Regions from separate parts of the Homo sapiens genome. Here region 2 is linked to region 1. A link means that fine-mapping ties the variant in region 1 to the expression of a gene that starts in the linked region. Tissue or cell type: fibroblasts. Region 1 holds a variant in brackets; the other region holds the start of a gene. All regions are shown on one strand. Distances are between the middles of the regions.

Evidence for each region. PIP is the estimated chance that this variant, and not a neighbour inherited with it, causes the effect.
Region 2: SGK1 starts here. The variant in region 1 is fine-mapped to the expression of SGK1 in fibroblasts (GTEx, PIP 0.96).

Annotation. Positions count from the first base shown.
Region 1 is chr6:134,412,342-134,423,035 of GRCh38, forward strand. No RefSeq gene overlaps it. Among named protein-coding and RNA genes, the nearest start is that of LINC01010, 20 kb to the right of the region's middle. The variant G/A (reference allele first, on the strand shown) is at 4,609.
Region 2 is chr6:134,312,353-134,323,046 of GRCh38, forward strand. It overlaps SGK1 (serum/glucocorticoid regulated kinase 1), which reads right to left and starts at 5,760. Exons shown (of 14, transcript NM_001143676.3): 1 at 5,040-5,760. The coding sequence starts at 5,108. RefSeq lists an enhancer at 5,308-5,587.

The DNA.
Region 1 (10,694 bases):
CTTGGGGATGGGGCTAGAGAGTTTCCGTTTCTAATGTGTTCCCAGATGATGCTGGGACCTGCACTTTGAGAACCACTGCAGGCCTGCTAACAGATTGTTAGAATAAATGTTCTTTTTTCCAGGAGGTAAGCCTGTACCCATCCTCTAGGAAGCAAGACTGATTCATGGTCCCAAGGCCTCTGATTTTTCCAAATCTGATTTCAGTTTTTGAGGTCATATCTAGCCTGATGAAAGTTGGCTATATATGAACAATCTACCCTCTTCAGTATAGTGGCTATTTGACTGAATTCATTCATGAATTCCACTTTCAAACTACTTTGTAGATACAGATGCAGAACTATATTTTTTGCAGGATATTTCCTTTTGCAAAGAAGAAACAGGGCTGCTTAAAATACATTATGAAGCTAACCTAAATTACAGAGTCAGTAACATCATTGCCATTTCCTGAGCCTCTAGTATATAGCCAGCTGTTTCACATATGCATCATTCAAAGTCCTGGTAGAAAAGATATTCCATATTTCCTCTTGGTAATTTGATGAGAATTCAACAAAGAAACGGTTTACAAAGTGTGGGTAGGGTTTAAGGAAACCACAAAGGATGGCATAGCACCCCAGGGCGAGGAGGAGTGGGACCCTAGTGCTGACAGGAGTGAGGGTAGCTGTTTAGAAGAAGGCTGCCTGTGGGCTGGGCACAGTGGCTCACGTCTGTAATCCCAACACTTTGGGAGGCCAAGGCGGGTGGATCACCTGAGGTCAGGAGTTCAAGACAAGCCTGATCAATGTGGAGAAACCCAGTCTCTACTAAAAATACAAAATTAGCCAAGCATGGTGGCACATGCCTGTAATCCCAGCTACTTGGGAGGCTGAGGCAGGAGAATTGGTTGAACCCAGAAGGCAGAGGTTGTGGTAAGCCAAGATTGTGCCATTGCATCCAGCCTGGGCAACAAGAGCAAAACTCGGTCTCAAAAAAAAAAAAAAAAGAAGAAGAAGAAGGCTTCTTTTGTAGGCTTCTGTGCATGAAGCAGCTGACCCACTGCCTGTTTCTCCAGATTCTTTCAGCATCTACCCATTACCCAATCCCATAGCCACTTCCACATTTTCAGATATTTATTCTAGCAACAACTTCACTTCTTGGTACCTGTTTTCTGTCTTTGTTTTCTGTTGCTATAACAGAATACTTGAGACTGAGTAGTTCATAAAGAAAAGACATTTATTTGGCTCATGGTTCTGGAGGCTGGGAAATCCAAGGGCATGGCAGCAGCTTCTGGCAAGGGCTTTAGTACCACATTGTAACATGCCACAAAAGCAAAAGGGCAAGTGAGCATGTGCAAAAGAGATCACAAGACTGAGTCAAGCTTGTTTTTGTAATAATCTGGTCTCAGTAGAACTAGCTAATTCCTGCATTAACAGCATTAATCCATTCATAAGGGCTCTGCCCTCATGACCCAATCAACTATTAAAAGTTCCACCTTTTAATATTGTTACATTGATAATTAAATTTCCAACACATGAACTTTTGGGAGATACATTTAACCTGGCAAGGAAGGAGCTTGGAGAGTAAATTTCTGAATCTCCCTCTTCTCTCAACTCTGATCATCCTCTGGTGCCTCCATGGGCATATCCCATAGAAAGTCAGGTGGCAAGAGAACTTGTTGAAGCCATTCATATGGGTCAACCTCCCAAGACATAGCACTTATCAAAAAGGGTAAAACAACCAAGTGAGGTGGCTCACACCTGTAATCCCAGTACTTTGGGAAGCCAAAGTGGGAGGATCACTTGAAGCCAGGAGTGTGAGACCAGCCTAGGCAACACAGTGAGACTCCACCTCTCCAAAAAATAATTTGAAAATTAACTAGTGTGGTGGTACACATTTGTAGTCTCAGCTACTTGGAAGGCTGAGGCAGGATAATTGATTGAGCCCAGGAATTTGAGGCTCAGTGAGCTAGCATTGTGCCATTGTACTTGCTCTGAATGGGAGACAGAGTGAGACCTTGTTTCTAAAAAAAAAAGGGGGGGGTGGGGGGAGCAGACATGGTGGCTCACACCTGCAATCTCAGCACTTTGGGAGGTCAAGGTGGGAGGATCACTTGAGCTCAGGAGTGTGAGACCAGCCTGGGCAACATAGTGAAACCTTATCTCAATTAAAAAAGAAAGACTAAAAAGAAGTAAGGAAGGAAGGAAGGAAAGAAAGAAAGAAAGAGGAAGGGAAGGGAAGGGAAGGGAAGGGAATGGGGAAAGAAGGGTAAAGTGTGAATCTGGAGGGATCCACACAACTTGTTACTGTTATGCAGACCTTTATATCAGCCAAATCAGGAAAACACTATTCTCAGCTTACAAGCTCTGAGGGGCTAGGTAGCCTACTTTGTTAACATGGCAAATAGGCTGTAGAGCAATTCACCAGTCCCCTTCATTTATCCTAACCCCATTAGAAGAAGGGGACTGAAGAGAAGAGACACCTCCCCAGAGAACCAGGGACCCTCCCCAGGTTCTGTGTTTCTGTCATCCTGGGAATGTTCAGCAGCATAGAGAGCTTCATAGCATGTGCTTCTGAGAAGCTGGGACTAGGCGGTGTGTTGTTGGGGGTTCTGGGTTTGTTGGGAGAAAGCCTGGCTTCCGATGCTCAGCGTTTCCTCTAATTGTGCAGCATCACTGCACAGACCAGAGGAAGGACATATGTATTCCCTGGGGTCTACGAGAAATAGCAAAAAGGCCTGACGTAGATTAAGCCTTGCTTCCTTCTTCTGGTACATTGGTACATGTCACTCCCTTCTTTGCTAGTCAGTCACTGACTTTCTGTGAATATCATCAACAGTCAGTCGTTATTTACCAAATGCTATCGTGTACAGGGCTGGTATGCAGGTCTCACATTTTTCATTGTAAATAATAGTACTTGTGAAACCTTTGGTTCGAAGATTTCGATCTTTGTCATCAATTACATCTCAGAATAATTTACTTGATGCTTATTAATGATTTCAGCATTCTTGGGTGAAAGGCATTATACATCTTTTATTTTTCTCTACGGATGTAGAGTTGAAGGAGAAAGATTTTGCAAGTTGACATTTTTATTTTTTGCAACACTGAACGTTTCACTGCCAAACATGACATGAGTACCTTAAAAAAACCCAAAGTAACTGTTCTAGAAGTTCAAACACAAGTTATTCAGCAAAGTGCCTTCTGTCTGCCTGTGACCTTTGTGCCAAGGTTTAAATTCAGCAAGCAGAGAAAGGCTGAGAAAAATGATCTAAGGAAGCTCTCTTTATGGAAGGAAGGGGAGGGATTTAGAACAGGTTCAAATGTCTTCAGAAGCAGAGCAAAGAAAGAACTGTGTGTGAGGGGAGTGGGGAGGCTGGCGAGGAAGACTAAGGACCCAAGAATTGGAGGATCCCAGGGCACTGTGAAAACTCTCACCCATCTGTAGGGCAAATTCTCTTGACTGCAGTTAGTTCAAGGAGGGTGAAAATAAGATCGTGGCAACACATGATGCAACCTGTGTCTGCTTTTCCTAGTCAACAGTTACCTATCCAGGCAGTGAAAAGTGTGGCGCTAAAGCTTATCAGCATCACAGCAAATGCAAACCTTAGAGAGAAGGGAGCGAGCAGGTAACAGCAGGTGCAGGGAAATTTAAGACACTGCAGAGCCCACATTATGAACACATAATGATCATGTGGGTGTCTGCTTTATCTCTGCTGTGGAACATTGTGATAAATTATTAATAAAATGGTTTGTGTAAGCAGTGATGAAAAGGAGACCTATTTTTGCCCAACAAACTGAAGCAAATTGGAGGCAAGGGGTTTTTACTTTTCAGTCAGAATTTTGAAAATACATTAAAAACAAATATGTAAATGGTATCTGTGCTCTTCATAAATTCATAAATAAAAGGGAATAAAAGAACAAAGCTTGAATCAGAACAAATATCTCTAAGTAAAGTTAGCTAAGGAAGTGTGGTGTTTCTGATATTTAGCCATACACCCCATTGACTCCAATGCCGAAGATAACTGTTTTTTTACTCTTTTATTTTTTTTTTGGAAATGGGGGTCTCACTATGTTGCCCAGGCTGGCTTTGAACTCCTAGCCTCAATCAATCCTCCCACTTCAGCCTCTCAAGTAGTCAAACGTTAATTTGAAACTATCTTGAGAATGTGACACAAAGATGCTGAATTTCTTTAAAATGCATGTGACAATTGCTACGGAGCAAGACATCCGGGGAACTTCCTTTTTTGGAGTGGGGATGGGGGGGAACATCTGTGTACACATCTACACATCTGTGGTTCAATATAATTGGGTTGTTTCTTTTTGCCTTTTACTGACATACTGTTGTGAATGTTGTGATACAGCGGAAGCTGTCAAGATAAGACTCCTTCACCACCAGGGTTTCACACAGGCTTTACTAGAAAGGACTGCCTGTGGCCTGCGCCGCAGAGGAGGGACCCAGAAAAGTGCACATGTGCTCAGTCTATCCCCACCCATTCATTTTCTCTGCAGGGTCTGTATTGGACCTGATGTCACCACCGTGTTGTTCTGAGTCAGATTGGATGAAATTCCTTTACTGGGACTTCGCTGAGACTAATTGGATACAGTGTGTTGTTCTGACTTAGAAAACACATTGCTC[G/A]TAATTCTGATATTTATTACCAAAGGACTTCCAGGAAGAGTTTGTGAATCAGTTACTAGAACCTGAGGACTCATGCATATGACTATGTATGTATTTATGGTTCCGTGATATGGAGTTCAAAACCAAGCAAGCACTCTGAGGTCTCAACTTCCTGAGTCCTACACTGCATGTAGGACATTTCTTACTGTGGACTTATGAGTCCATAAACCTTTATTGGCTCCATTGCTGCTTTGCTGAGACACCTCCCACCGCTGTTACGTTCTAGAACTTGTCATTCATCTTATTTCTAGCTCAGTTTACTACTCCATAACTAATGGCTGCTAATATTTACTCACTCCTGAGTGGTATTAAGAGATTTCGAACATGTAAAATGATATATTTGAAAAGCATCCAGAAAATATTGTCATGTTTGAGAACTTGAACAAGATCAGTGTGGAAGAGATGGGAGCAGTTTGGACAAATAGCACCGATTCCATGCACCTATTACTTTAAGTCAGTTACTCAGCTTAAAGAGACTTGTTTTTAAAGGCTGGAGACCAAGAAAAAATTGTTTCAATGTTGATTGATCCATAGAAGCATACAGGGAAGTGGTTGAGTGCACTAACTTTGGACATGCACAGATCTGAGTTCCATCTCTGATTCTGCTGCTTGTCAACTGTGTGTCCCTGGTAAAATCGGATAACCTTCTGAGCTCCAATTTCCTTATTTGAAAATTAGAATACCAACTTTAGGCAAGGCGCCAGTAATCCCAGCATTTTGGGAGGGTGAGGTAGGTGGATCACTTGAAGTCAGGAGTTTGCGAACAGCCTAGACAACATAGCGAAACCCTGCGTCTACTAAAAATACAAAAATTAGCCAGGTGTGGTGGTGCATGCCTGTAATCCCAGCTACTCAGGAGGCTGAGGCAGGAGAGTCGCTTGACTTGGGAGGCGGAGGCTGCAGTGAACTGAGATTGCGCCACTACACTCCAGGTGGGGTGACAAAGTGAGACCCTGTATCAAAAAAAAAAAAAAAAAAGAATACCAACTTTAGAGGGTTGTAAAGACTAAATAATATGCATAAAGGGCTTAGCAGAATGCGTGGCACACAGGCTCAATCAATACATGTTCCGCGGACAGCTCTCAGAATGAATAACTGTATCATGCTAATTTCACAATTTGAGGATGAAAGATGGAAAGGAATCTAAAATAACACAGATTTTAGGACAAGGTTTCTGATTAACCTACTGATCACATCAGAATAAGACAATGTTGCTTTGATTTTTTCCCCTCAATCCTTCAGAGGTTATGGTTTTGGGGTTTTTTGTTTGTTTTTGGACACAAGGTCTCCCTCTGTCACCCAGGCTGGAGTGCAGTGGTATGATCACAGCCCACTGCAACCTCGACCTCCTAGACTCAAGCAATCCTGCAACCTCAGCCTCCTCAGTAGCTGGGACCACAGGCATGTGCCACCATACCTAGGTAATTGTAAAATTTTTTTTAGAGATGAGGTCGCACTATGTTGCCTAGGCTGGTCTCGAATTCCTGGGCTCAAATGATTCTCCCGCCTCGGCCTCCCAAAGTGCTGGGATTACAAGCATGAGCCACCGCATCTGGCCTGTTTTTTAACTAAAATCTAGAGGTTCATGACCACATTACACTGCTGGAGAACCTCATTTTAAGAACAAGCTGTTTTCCAAGAGTTTGGTTGCCGGTAGGCTGTTTGGAAATTAAAAAAATATATATTTCAAATAGAAACAATGTTAAAATTGGTGAGGACATCCTCAGGCAAGGCTAGGCCATAGCATTATATATACATATACATAGCATTATATATACACATAACACTAGGGATACAATGTAGCTGAATTGATGTAGCTGTAGTGAGTTGTTCCTCTCCCAGCCTCCTGTGGACAGAACTCAGAGGTACATTCTGTTTCTTTTCGTTTCTTTTATTTCCTTTTTTCCTCTCCTTTCCTTTTTTCCTTTCCTTTTCTTTTCTTTTCTTTTTTTTTTTTCTGAGACAGAGTCTTGCTCTGTTGCCCAGGCTGGGGTGCAGTGGTGCAGTCTCAGCTAACTGCAACCTCCACCTCCCAGATTCAAGCAATTCTCCTGTCTCAGCCTCCTGAGTAGCTGGGATCCCAGGTGTGCATCACCACACTCAGCTAATTTTTGTATTTTTAGTAGAGAGATGGGGGTTTCACCATGTTGGCCAGGCTGGTCTTGAACTCCTGACTTCAGGTGATCTGCCCATCTCAGCTTCCCAAAGTGCTTGGATTACAGGCGTAAGCCACCACGCCCCAGCCCTCATTCTGTTTCTAACCTGCTCAGACATTTATGTCTCTCCTTCACTTTTGGGACTCAGATTCCCTGGCATAGGAATCTGGACACCACCTTTTTTTTCTTCACCAAGCCCACATGGCTCCTTCAGTCACCCCACATCTTGTTTCTTCACATGCCTCAGCCTTTGCACAGTGCATTCTTGCTGCCTAGAAGGCCTTCTCTGCCTCCTGTTTTCCCTTTCCCCATACTTCACCTGGAAAAACTTCAACTCATCCTTTCAACACAAGAAACTGCCCCCTCTTCTGTGTTTCCATGACTTCGCACACCTTCACTATAGCATGGGTCACACTGATTAGGGATAACTGGGTTGAACCCCCACCCCTGCCCTGCCAGTCCGGGGACTTTAGCTAGAAACTGTTTGATTTGTCTTGATATAACCACTGCCTAGACTAGGTCACTGGCCATATAATAATAATAAGGAAAAAAGGGTAACAATAACAAACATTTTTAAGTTGCCAGGAACAGTTCTTTAAACGTCTTCTATAGATTTACACATCTGATTTCTTTGGAAAACCTAAAGAGTGGAAACTTGTTTTACAAATGATTAAGCTGAAGCATACAGCAATTAAGCAACTTGCCCGAGGTCGCAGAGCCAGTAAGTAGACTGAGCTGTAGAGGCAAATAGCTGACATATAAATCCAAGCATTTTGGTTCCAAGCTGAAATTCTTGTCTATGAATGACCGAATGCATACATGTTAGATGTTGGCTGAGCTCTTACAGAACAAAAGGAAAGGGGCCAGGCACAGTGACTAACTCCTGTATTCCCAGCACTTTGGGAGGCCAAGGCAGGCTGATCACTTTAGGTCAGGAGTTCGAGACCTCGGTCAACATGGCGAAACCCCATCTCTACTAAAAATACAAAAATTAGCCGGGTGTGGTGATGCGCACTTGTAATTCCAACTGCTTGGAAGGCTGAGGCATGAGAATTGCTTGAACCTGGGAGGCAGAGGTTGCAGTGAGCAGAGATCACGCCACCACACTCCAGCCTGGGTGATGGAGTGACAGACTGTCTCAAAAAAAAAAGAAAAAAAAAGAAAAAAGAAAGGTATTCTGTACCCTTTTTTTAATGGGGTGAAGAAAAAGGAAGAAGAAGAAGGTGATTTGGGAGAGACAATTACCTCCTGATAGAGGGACACAGCCCTGAGAAGTGGCCCCAGGACCTTTATCCCAGGGAGAGGGCAGTGGTGCCATGGGCCTCCACCCCAAGGCTACAATGGGGTCCTTAGAAGCTCCAAGGGTCTGTGCCAGGTCTCAGCTGAAGAAAGTAGGTGAGGCCCATCCCTTAGAGAAGGAGAAGGTCTAGGATGCCTGCTGAAGGCTTCTGAGCAGCTGGTGATGTCAAGAAAGCAGGGTTTCCTTTAACTCCACCTTGAGCACTTGACCATCAGGCCCTCTGATTAGTCACCTCCATCAGCTTGCTCTTCCCTCTGCTCTGCATACAATCTGCTCCTCTTCATCTTTCAGGCTCAGCTTATATGTCACTTCCTTAGAGAAAGCTGGAAAGTAAACAGCAACAGTGGTATTCAAAGCGGGCCACCACCACCTCCCATGATTCCCTATTTGGGTGCCCTGTTTGTTTCCTTATTTGACGTGCTTGTCTTCTTGGTCTGTCTTCTCCATGAGACTGTAGCTCCCTGAGTGGCATGATGCATCTCTATTTTACAGTCCAGTCTCCTGTATCCAGCACCTATTTGGCCTTCAATATAAACTTGTTTGATTAAATAAATGGATAAGTGATTCAGCCTTGGGATGTCATTCCTAATCCTCACTGACTTTTTCCACCTTATCCGTTCCTCCTCCACCCTCCTCTGTAGATAAGCATTGAAAGAATGTTGGTATTTCCTTCACAGAGGAATTACTCATCCTAGGGAAATGGAATAACCACTTCTCTTCTGAGGTAATGAAAAGAAACGGGTTTTTAGATGGATGGACCTGGGTGCAAATCCTGCCCAGCCATGGTTTATGCATAATACTTGGTCATTTTACTTAATCCTTCTGGTCTTTTACTCAAAGGGCATCATAGCACGTTTCTTCCAGGATTGTTATGATGTTTGAATGAGAAGATATATGTAAATATGCTTAACATGGAGCCTATTACAATAGGGGTTCAATACATTATAGCTGCTGTTATTAGTATGGATGTTATTTGTCTTGCAATGCAACCAAATTGGGCTTCAGGCCCCTTGTTTTGGCTGTTATATTTAGCAGGAAAAATTCACAGAAGTGTTAAGAGGGAAGAATAATTCAGTTCTCAAGAAGAGAAAGCTGTTTTTTTCCTTCTCCTTGAATCAGAAAATCTGTTCTTCATGGTGATAGTTGTGTGAATATCACAATAATATCTGAGTTTATCTTTCCTAGAGTTGGCAAATAAATTGGACCCGAGAATGATGTGTGGAATTCAGCCTTCACATTGTTTATGCTGTTTCTCATTTGAAAACAGATGTGTCATGGGGATTCATAGCATCTGCTCTTTCTTCTGTGTTTATTTTCTCATACATCTCTTCTGTCTCTGACACTAAAATGTAAAGTCCCAGAAGGCAAGGATCTTTGTATCTTCAGTATACCTAATATGACACTTGGCCAATGAGGGTAAGGGGAGGCATTCAGTAGATATATGTTTTTGATGACAGTACTTTACATGTTTTCAAGTTACCTTGTCCTAATTAAATAGAAGGGCCCAGGGGAAAAGAAGATAATAGTATAATGCATATATTTGTTCTATCTAATAACAGTTTAACAGAGATCCAATAACTCAATCTAGAAAAAATCAAAGCAGATTTGCCAGACTTATATGATAATGTGGTTTTGTTCTTTATTAAAAAATAAATTTTTATGATAATGTTTGTCCAATATCACAGTGATTTATTTTATTTATTTATTTATGTATTTATTTATTTATTTATTTATTTATTTTTGAGACAGAGTCTTGCTCAGTCCCCCAGGCTGGAGTACAGTGGTGCGATCTCGGCTCACTGCAAACTCCGCCTCCCAGGTTCAAGAGATTCTTCCGCCTCGGCCTCCCAACTAGCTGGGATTACAGGCACCTGCCACCATACTTGGCTAATTTTTGTATTTTTAGTAGAGATGGGGTTTCACCACGTTGGCCAGGCTGGTATCGAACTCCTGACCTCAGGTGATCCGCCTGCCTTGGCCTCCCAAAGTGCTGGGATTACAGGCATGAGCCACTGTGCTCAGCCTCAATATCATAGTAATTTAAAAAATTTAAGGCTACTTTTAACACAGAATAGCTAGTAATTTTTTTTTAACTTTAACAGAACCAGAAGGTTACTCTGCACCAGGGAAAATGCATTTCCTCTCTCTCTTTCTACCTGTACCTCCCACTTCTGCATTCCACTGCATTATTGGTCAAAGAAAAGCCAAATCTTTATATGGAATTTTTAACTCATTTCCCAGTTATGCTTAGAATTCAAGATAGATAAACCTAGAGGCAATACAATTCCCAAGTACGGTAAAAATAAAACAGAAGTACAGACAGCTATTAGTAAACACGTCTTCATCATGAGCTCAATTTCTTACCAAATGAAAATTTCCTCAATCACAGTGGTGAAAGTACTCAGCAATGGAGGCCTCACATTCCACACCAAAATGAAAGAGACGGAATGCTTGTTTTTGTGGCGAAAAAAATCCCAACACTATTAGTCACTTTTCTAACCAGATGGATAGAATGTTCCATGGTCTATAGATAATGATGACGACCATGAGTTGGTGAGTGACCTGTGAGATGAGTCAACTGGCGAAGCAGT
Region 2 (10,694 bases), 100 kb before region 1:
AAAATAGAACAGTAAAAGGAAAACAAATGTAAAGGGATGCTGTTTATGAAATAGTTGTGAAGAATAAGCACTTCAGAGGAGCTTAATTTAACTTCTCAGCTCTGCTAGAGTAAACATTGTAACCAGACTAAAAACCTTTCCTTTGTTCCTGCAGTTATTAGAGAAAGGAGGAGGCCAGAGAAGTCATATCATTTCACTTCTCTGAACTTCACCCTGGATTATTTAATGTTGACAGGCATTCGGGATGTATAGAGATTAAGGACACAGACTCTGGAGCCTGGTGCTGGGATCCAAACCCTGATCCTGTCACTAACTAGCTATGTGACTTGGGGCAAGTTCTTCAACTTCTGTACACCTCAGTTTCTTCATCTATGAAATCACAATAATAAAAGTACCTATCTCAGGTATTTTTATATATGATAATTTTTTTTTTTCCTTGAGATGGAGTCTCACTCTGTCATCCCAGCTGGAGTGCAGTGGCGAGACCTCAGCTCACTACAACCTCCGCCTCCCTGGTTCAAGCGATTCTCCTGCTTCAGCCTCCTGAGTAGCTGGGATTATGGGCGCCTGCCATCACACCTGGTTCATTTTTGTATTTTTAGTAGAGACAGGGTTTCACCACGTTGGCCAGGTTGGTCTCGAACTCCTGACTTTAAGTGATCTGCCTGCCTAACCCTCCCAAAGTTCTGGCATTACAGGCGTGAGCCAACGCGCCCAGCCTGTGTATGATGATTTAAATGTGTAATGTACTTAAAGCTCTTAGAACCATGCCCAGCAATATTAATGCCATTTAAGTCATAGTTATTAGAAAAGCTACTGTTATTAAAGAATAATGCAAGGAATTGTTCAAATGCATATAATCATAAAATAGAGAGTCAAGGCTGGGCACAGTGGGTGGCTCACACCTGAAATGTCAACACTTTGGGACGCTCCCTTGAGCCCAGAAACTCGAGACCAGCCAGGGCAACATAGTGAGACCTTGTCTCTGCAAACAACCAACCAACCAAACAAACAAACAAAAATAACAACAACAAAAATACAGAGTCAAAATGGAACGGTCTTGTCAAAGTTGGTAGTCACTATGCCGTTAGTTTCATGAAGATAAAACATGGTTATTTTGTTCCTACTCTATTTGTTGAAAAATGAATGAATGAGGCATGAAAGACTTGACTAGTTTGATGTTGAGAACTTAGCAAAAAGGAAAGCACACGAGATCTGGAAGTGAAAACCCAAAACATGAGTCCTGGCTTAACCTCATTCTAATTTGACAGGTGATTTACCACAGGTACTCAGTTTCCTCATCTTTGAAAGAGGGAAGTCAGAGGGAGAATTTCTGAGGTTCATTCCACATCCAAAATTCTGCAGCGTTAGATAGCCTTTCGAATTTTACAAAAGGTAATGTAATCATGGCTATGGAAGTTTTTTTCACATACCTTGTGTATTTCCAAAAAGGATTATCGAGTTGGAGACAATGTCATTTGTTTGCGTTTTCTAAATCATTATGTAAGAATCTGAGCCACAAACAGAACAAATCTTTAAATCCATGAAAATGGATTACCTTTAGCTGGACTGACAACTTTTAAAACTCTTGGATTGGGAGAATAAAACTGATAAGGACATTTTTCCATTCATCTTAAATGAATTTTTGGAGACTCTTAAGAGTAAAATATAATCCATATACATCTAATGCTAATTTATCATGAACACTTAAAGAATGAAAGTAGAACTCTTATCCAGTTTAGTTCAGCAATTCTCTGCTAAATGAAATTAAGCTGCTTTAGTTGAGCTTTTAAAATATGAGGATGAGAAGCATAAATCCAAAGGATTTTGTAGAACTAGCATCCGGACTGTCTTTCTTCAGATTATGTTCCTAGAATCTGGGTTCCCCAGGGCAGCCTCTCATTACTGTCAGTATTAAGGACTAGAAAGGAGCTGGAAGAGGCTTGGCCGCTTTTATAGGTTTTTGGTAGTGGCATAAAGATTTCACTTGGTTGGGGGAGGGGGGTAGGGGGACAGAAGAGTCTGTTGTGGAAACTAAAAGAAAAGAAGGGGAGAGTGGTCTGAAATCAAAAAGTCTGGATTACGTATACAAGCTTTGAGTTGAACAAGGTTTAAATTTTAGCTCTGCTACTTTTTAGTTATGTGACCTTGGGCGAATGGTTTAATCTCTCTAAGTCACACTTTGCACATTTAATAATGTTTCTTACCTTATAGGGTTACTGTGAATATTAAATGAGCTAATACATGTAAAGCATTCCTACCCAGAACATAGTCAGCTCTAATAAATAGTGACTGACAGACAGCTACAAGGGCAGATAACCTATATTCTCCTTCAGTTTCTTATGCTCCCTCTGGAATGTCTCAGAAGCATAGGAAGCACTGTTTAAGCCTCCTGCAATCAAAAATCATTCTTTTTAATTAGCCCTAATAGACCCTATGGTTTTTTTTTTTTTTTTTCCAAAATCTATTCATAGTTTAATGTGGGCTATGGACAAAGGTTCACTTTGTAAGACTGTCTAGCTAGGTTAAAAATAAAATATGCAGAAATGTGTGGAACTTCAACAATAGAATATAAGAAAATGAATTATTCTGAACTGCAAACAAAGGCATTGTAGTATATGAATGTGTATGTGAAGTAAAAGTTTGGAAAGTATAAACATCAGTATGGTAACAGTTACTACATCTGGGAAAGGGAGAAAGATTGGAGAGGAGGTGGGATATACCTTATTATTGTTTTAATGTTTTATAGATGTATTTACATATTGTTTAACTAAAAACAAACAAACAAAAAAAGCAAAGTCATGTACAAGCAGAAATAAACATTTAGAATACAGAATTTGTGGAATAAACCAAAGTAGACAAAAATCAAAGAATTTATCCCTGGGGCATTCAATGACTTGATACAAGGTCACCTTCTACTTAGTTAACTGTCCTTGAGGAGTAAGGAGAGCGCAGGGGCAGGAGAGATGTCTGATCCTGTCTCCAGCAACTGATAGACCCAGGTTAGAAGTTAGATGAAGCTGCCTGCCAGTTATCTTGGTAGAAACTTCTTTCTGCATGTACTCAGATAAGACATCAGTACCCTGGGTGGTTCTCTGCAAAATTCAAGGTCTGCAGAGTCACCAACTGAAGTCTATTGGTAAACTTGCTTTTAAGCAAAACAAAACCAAATGGCAAATTAGTATTTCTATTAGTACATTTTGATAACAAAGAAAATAAAAGACAATTTAAAATTTATGTAACTTAAATCTACATTGCTTAAGAACATCTGACTGAGGAGTTTTAGAATATCCCCAATACCATGAAATAAATACAGTAATTAAAAGGCAATAGAGTTTAAATACTGGATAATGGGCTATGGCATTTTTAAAATTAGCAAAACATTTGTTTATTATTGAAAATTAGGGCTGGGCCTGGTGGTGGACATCTGTAATCCCAGCAATTTGGGAGGCTGAGGCAGGAGGACCACTTGAGCCCAAAAGGTCAAGACCACCCTGGGCAATATAGCAAGACCCCGTCTCTAAAAAAAAGAAAAAGAAAGAAAGAAAATTAATTTTCATAAAGGGCTCTTCCCTTGGAAAGAAATATTTTAGCTACAGAGAAAAACTAAGAAGCCTTGTGGAGCTCTGTGAAGTTGCACTGACTTGCTTTCACTTAGCTTGCAGCTCACTAGTGAGATTTCACATGGTACTCCCACTCCAAGAGCAGGGGCCAGGACAGGTTGGTTTCATTTTGGTTTGAATGCATATGCTTTGGCCCACAGACTTGGAGAAAGATTTTGCTTTACTGATGAGAACTCAGTCAAGGGTGCTTGGGAGCCTTCGCTGGCCCTCTAGCTGGGCCTGACATGTTGCCTGCATTTCTAGCCTTGCCTTCCCAGCTTGCCCATTTGGTGCAGGGAGATAGTCCAGCCCACCCTGAAATTCACTGTGTTCTGCGGATGAGTTAACTGAAGGGCTGTGTTTCAGGAGTGGCACAGAAAGGACCTGAATGAAAGGAAGGAGGAATGAATGGAGAGAACCATTTTGGTGGAATTGCCCTAGGGTATTAAATAGGATGGGGCAACTGGGGACTGGAGGATGTTCCTTCTCTTACGTTGCTTAGGAAACACTGTCCTTAAGAGTGTCAGTGTCATTCCTTTAACAATCATTCATTTCTTACCTCCCGCTTGTGTATAAATTTGCAGATTTACACAGACCACCAGTGTGGCCATCCCAGTGAACTGAGTTTATTGTGAAATATACATGCAAAAAAATCCTTTTTTCTCACCTACAACCAATGCAACATTATTCATACTTTGAGTTGAAGAATAAGGAGTTTAAGAAATAAATGCATACAGCAACATAACCCTGAATTATCACTCAAATACAGACCTCCCACTGCTCTCTCCCAAAAAAAAAAAAAAAAAAAAAAAAAAAAAGGCAGTTATTCTAAGCAAAAGCAAAAATTGAGGCAACTTAAAATAGACAATTTTAAATGCTGGATTCCATCATTTCTGTAAAAGGTCATTCTACTCCTTTGCTATTTATACCACAGATAGAGACACAGCAAATTATTGGCTGAATGGATTTGGGAAACCAGAAGCTGCTGCTTCTGACGAACGAAGATGATAATGCATCACTTGAGACTGAGTGGATGAAAGGTGTAGAAAAGTTGAACCCTTCAAAGATGAGAGGAAGCTGCTAAATTAGCCCCTGACTAAATTACTAGCCATAATTGTACTCAAGCCAGTTCTCTTTGCGACTGCCTTGTAATCTTTGTTGTGGCTTGAGAGAGAAAAATCCCCATTCCCAGCTCAAACCCGTTTAAGGCATCTCAGCCCAACCCCCTCCTCCCAATGCAACTCTTCATAGCCCCCTGCCCCTCCTCCAACAAATTCTAATCAAGTCAGGTATAGTTCTCAGCTTTACCACTGCCATCAGAAGCACGGCTTACATTAAGGGTTTAGCAACAAAACCTCAGGCTTACTTCAGGCAAACATTCAAAAGCATTTAAGAGAAGCACAGAAAACAAAAGAAATAAGCAAAACCTGTCCTTACCCGCTTCTTAAAAAATTGGAAGGCTGAGCATTTCTTGACTGGGAATCCATTCATGTCTTTGTTTACCATTTTCCACCGTGGGGAATTCACAGTTATAGATCCAGGTTGGCACCCGCCTGGTTAGTGCATATCTGTTTCCCCGGTTTACCTCCTGCAGACAGTTAATGAAGACTGAGCGGGATGGAGAATCTAGCGGGGCTCAGTTCTTCACTCGCGCATTCTGCAGCACCAGCTACTGCAGCAACCTCTCCCCACTTTCAGTTGCCACCGACAGCGGCTTTTCTCCTTCCATCATTGCTCCGAAACATATGCATCACCGCTGCAGGACCCTGGGGGCCGGACGGTGGGATACGGCCAATCTCCGGGGAGATGCTGTGGCTCTTACCGAGCGGGAGAAGGGTACGCCTCCCCGCCCCCAGCTACCTGGCTGCTCTTCCGCGGCCGGCGCGGGGAGCGAGTCGCTCTTCTCCAGGTGATGCGCTCCTGGAGGCGGCTTGAGAGAGGAGAGTTGTTTTTGATTGTGCAAGTTCCAGTGGGAGCTGTAGTTAAGCAGCTGAGAGAAGGAGTAAGAAAGAGCAGAAGCCAGAGGGAGGGAGGGAGAACAGCGCCAGAAAGGCAGAGGGAGCGAGAAGGCGAGGCTGGAAGAAGCAACGGTTCATGAATATCTGAGCAGCGGATGGAGAGAAGGCACAGCCGGCTCAGGGCACACTGAAGAGCAGTTGACTCCCCTTGGGAGGGTTACTTTAAATAGCTTCTTTTCTTTCTTTCTTTTTTTTTTTTTTTGGTTAGGACCATTTAAATCAGAGTTTCATATAAATTGCACACCGTTTTTATTTTATGCTCATTGACATTCTTTTGAATCCTGTTGCTGAATAAAAGCCTCTCAACGGAAATGTAATCACATTTAATCTCGACCTGTCCAAACGTGGAAGAAAATGAAATAAAGTGCAAGCGTAGGTATAACAATGGAAGATCTCTCACTATGTAGAAGCTCTTTTAGCCTCCCCTCCCCTACTTGTCATTATATAGTGGGCAATGGTGACGGTAATTGTGTCTTTTTCATTAAAACAGCTTATTAAAAAAAGAACACAATGAACATATACAAAGTACTTTATTACACACATACACACACACACGAGTTATTACCAAAAAGTACTACTGAATCCATTTAATGATGAGGAAGGTTTGATAAATAAAAGAGTAAAGCATTCTTCCTATTAGGTGAAAAATTTCCCAAAAAATCCTTACTCATGTTATCCTTTGCACACTGAGCTCCTTTTAAAAAAGCCATTTAATTGTATGTGGCTTATTTTTCCATTTTTATTCTTTAATGTTGATATTTTATGGGAATGATTTTAAAGATTAGTTGATAGTAAAGCAAGAAAGCAAAGAAAATAAACTTGGCATCTGACCTGGCAGAAAGCCACCAACATCGGTGTGTGGCTTTCTGCCATCACCTGACCTCACTGTGCCTTTCGGACACTGCCTCATCCATAAAATGGAGGCAGCCACTCATTCATTCATTCACTCATTCATTTATTTAGTCATTCATTATTTGCTATTTCATTCCATTAATAAATCTAACTCTGACAAGTGTCCTCAGGATGTGGAGCCTTTTCATAATCATCACAAGGGAATATAATTGATAAATAAGTGAAAGGCGCAATGCTAATTTGAAACTGATTATGACCTCATTATATATAACACACCTAACATTGTTAAAGTATTTACATGGAAGTCTCTGGTAAGAAGAGAAACATCAGGTTAAACTGGGAAAGAAATGCATGGGTTTCATTGAATTGGACTATAAATCTCTACAGTTGGGCCAGAGTTTTTGGGAATAAACATGAAATCCTGTTTGCTAAATGCCTTGAGGTTTCCAAAAAGAAAATGCAATACAACTAAATGATGGCATGATAACCAAGGGAAAACAACTATTCATTTTGGAGAGATATGTTAAGTTGTCCAAGATGCAAGTATATGTTATGTAATCTACAACATTGATAAGTTTTTGTGGTTCTTCTAAAGAGTTCATTTAAAATTATGGTAGTTCAAAGGGAATTATTTTGAGACGATGGAAGTGTTCTCTATCATGATGATGGTGGTGGTTACATAACTATGCATTTGTCAGAACTCATCAAATTTTATATAGGAAAAGGGAAACTTTTGCTGCATGTAAATTATACCTCAATGGACCTCATTTTAAAAAATGATGGTCATTCAAGTTCTTTCTTTTTCGTCCCATTGCCACTCCCCCAAAAGTGTTTTAACAGACATTTATTGAATTTGAGTAATATACAGGAGGGGACCTTTAAGCACTCTGCTAGGAAGGAGGTGCTGGGGCTTTGCTTAATCCCACATTGGCCTAGCATGCATACTGGTTGATATCATTTGGCTGTGTCCCCACCCAAATCTCGTCTTGAATTGTAGTTCCCACAGTGAGTGATTTCTCATGAGATCTGATGGTTTTATAAGGGGCTTTTCTCCCTTTTGCTCAGCACTTCCCCTTCCTGATGCCATGTGAAGAAGAATGTGTTTGCTTCCCCTTCTGCTCTGATTGTAAGTTTCCTGAGGCCTCCCCAGCCATGCTGAACTGTGAGTCAATTAAACCTCTTTCCTGTATAAATTACCCATCTCACTATGTCTTTATTAGCAGTGTGAGAACGGACTAATACCCTGGTTTCATGTAGGATGTATGTTCATTTGGGGTGCAGGCGGGTGGTTAATAGAGATTATGAGGGAGGAGAAGACAAGCTAAATGCTATCTTTTCCCTCACTCCATGCCACCTCTTGAAGATGCTGCCACTGTCACTTGGTCTATGCTAGATCCTATGGAAGGTCCAGTGCATGTAAGTGTCACTGGTTTTTGTCACCAAGGAACTCACAGCCTAGTAGAGAAATATACAGTGTGGTAAGAATACTATATACAGTAGTCCTCCCTTATCTGAGGTTTTACCTTCCACAGTTTCAGTTACCTAAGGTCAACAATGGTCTGAAAATCAGTGAGTACAATACGATACTTTTAGAGACACAGAGAGAGACCACAGTCACATCATTTTTATTATCGTACATTGTTAAAATTATTCTACTATTGTTGTTAATCTCTTACTGTGCTTGATTTATAAATTAAACTTTATTATAGGTATGTATGTACAGGAAAAAACATAATGTATATGGAGTTTGGTACTATCTGAAGTTTCACGCATCCATGGGGGGGGTCTTGGAATGTATCCCCCATGGATAAGAGTGTACTACTCTGTGTGTGTGTGTGTGTGTGTGTGTGTGTGTGTGTGTGTGGTGTGTATGCATCAACCCTGCCTTAATTTGGAGGGGGGAAGGGTGGGGCTGGATGGGTAAGAGAGGTCCAGGAAATTTACCTAAAGGGATGATGTTAGTGCATGGCCTTAAAGAATGAGTAGGTCAGTCAGATGAAGGAAGAGAAGTATAGGGCAGGGATTCTGACTATATCTGACAGCCAATTATTTTGGATTATCTTTTGATTGGTGCAATAATAGAGAAATGCATTAACTGCACTGTGTTGGTTATTCAGGAAAAGAAGGCATCTTTCATCTCACTCTGACCTCTATTTTCATAAGTAAAGCTGCCCTCAGGTAAGCCCAGAGTGACTACTGTTTACTAAATGTTTCCTTTGACAGGTCCACTGTTGATACCTATAAAGGAGCACAGGCTCCTGCTTATAATAATAAAAAAAAAAACTCTGGACTCATGCAACATCTTGTTTATAAATCAAACTTAATTTAATTAATTAACTCACTTCTTGTTCCCATAAAACACACTTATTTATTTTTGTAGCACCAGCACACAGCGGAGTGCCTGGGCCATGCTAGCACTCAACAAATGGTTTTCAAACGAATTAAATACAAAAGTAAGTATAGCTGACATCAGTGACCCTGGCACCAGACCATTTGCAGGAATCATTAAATACCTTTAAGATTCTTCAGTCATTAAGCTCTCTCCCATGATAGCCAATATGCTGAGCTCCAGTAAGAGCAAACGACCTCACTCCTCACCATTTCCTCTTTAAGCCTCAATGACACTGTAGCCCTGGGATGACACTTCTTTTTGATGGAAAATCCCAATGTTAAAAATAATCCCTTGGGCCAGGCACAGTGGCTCATGCCTATAATGCCAACAATTTGGGAGGCCGAGGTAGGAGGATAACTTGAGCCCAGGAGTTTGAGACCAGCCTGGCAACATAGCAAAGCCCCATTTCTACAAAAAGGAAAAAAAATAGGTGGTGTGGTGATGCATGCCTGTGGTCCAGCTGTTTAGGAGGCTTAGGTGGAAGGATTGCTTGACCCTGGGAAGTTGAGGCTGCAGTGAGACATGGTTGTTCCACTGCACTTTAGCCTGGGCAACAGAGCAAGACTCTCTCAAAATAAATAAATAAATAAACAAACAAACAAAAAGAATCCCTTGAACCTCTATTTGATTTTTTTGTGGTATACCTACTTTTCCTCCCAACAATATTGTTTAGGCTGTCACACAAAGAATAAAATAAAGTAGCTAGGTAGGACTAACTACCAATATGTACCTGCGGTGGAAAGACTGCTGTATTGATTTGGAACATCTTCTACCTCACTTCCATTCCCTAATTGTGCAACCTTCAACAAGTTCCCTCAACGCACTAAGCCTCAGTTTCTTCATCTGTAAAATAATAATAATAAAATGCTTCTTCACCTACCTCCTAAAGGAATTGTCAGTACCAAATTATATTTGAAAGGGTTTTGCAAAGTAATAAATAACTCTACATTTCTTTGTTTCACTAAAGCAAGAGGCATATGCCACTGTAATACTTTTTAGAAAGTCTATCTTCCCATAGATTAAAGTGTTTTTGTGTGATACATTTAGTTGTTGAATGGAATGTAATTTTTTTCGATAGCACCCCAGAATACACAAAAGATAACAAACAATAAAGTATCTGTTTAGTGACAAATGTCCCTAAGGAGAAAGGGATAAAAATACATCACCTCATGAGAAATGTTTTACATTCCTTTTTGGCCTGAGTGACTCGATCATATGCTTAAAACTCCAGCCACAGTGGTAGTGATGTATTTAATGAAGAATTAGGAAACCCTGCTGGGGATTATGGGTTTGTTTTTGTACATGCAAAAGACCCTTTTTAATTTTATTTTATTTGCTTTTTTGAGAAAGGGTCTCTCTCTGTCACCCAGGCTGGAATGCAGTGGTGTGATCATGACTCACTGCAGCCTCAACCTCCTGGGCTCAAGCGATCATTCCACCTCTGCCTCCCGAGTAGCTGAGATTACAGGTGCGTGTCACCATGCCCAGCTAACTTTTGTAGTTTTTGTAGAGATGGGGTTCCACCATGTTGCCCAGGCTGGTCTCAAACTCCTGAGCTCAAGCGATCTGCCCGCCTTGGCCTCCTAAAGTTCCGGGATTATAGGTGTGAGCCACCAAGCCTGGCCAAAAGTCCCTTTTTAAAAAAATTTGAAATTTTTTGGTTTTACCAAATTAGATCTTTTTTCACTTAATGGATGCATATATCAGAGGAAATGTTACATTATGAAAACCCTAAAACAGTTCATTATATAGTTTTCTTTGACAGAAATAATTACATAGAAACAAAAATAATCAAAAGGCCAGACATGGTGGCTCATGCCTATAATCCCA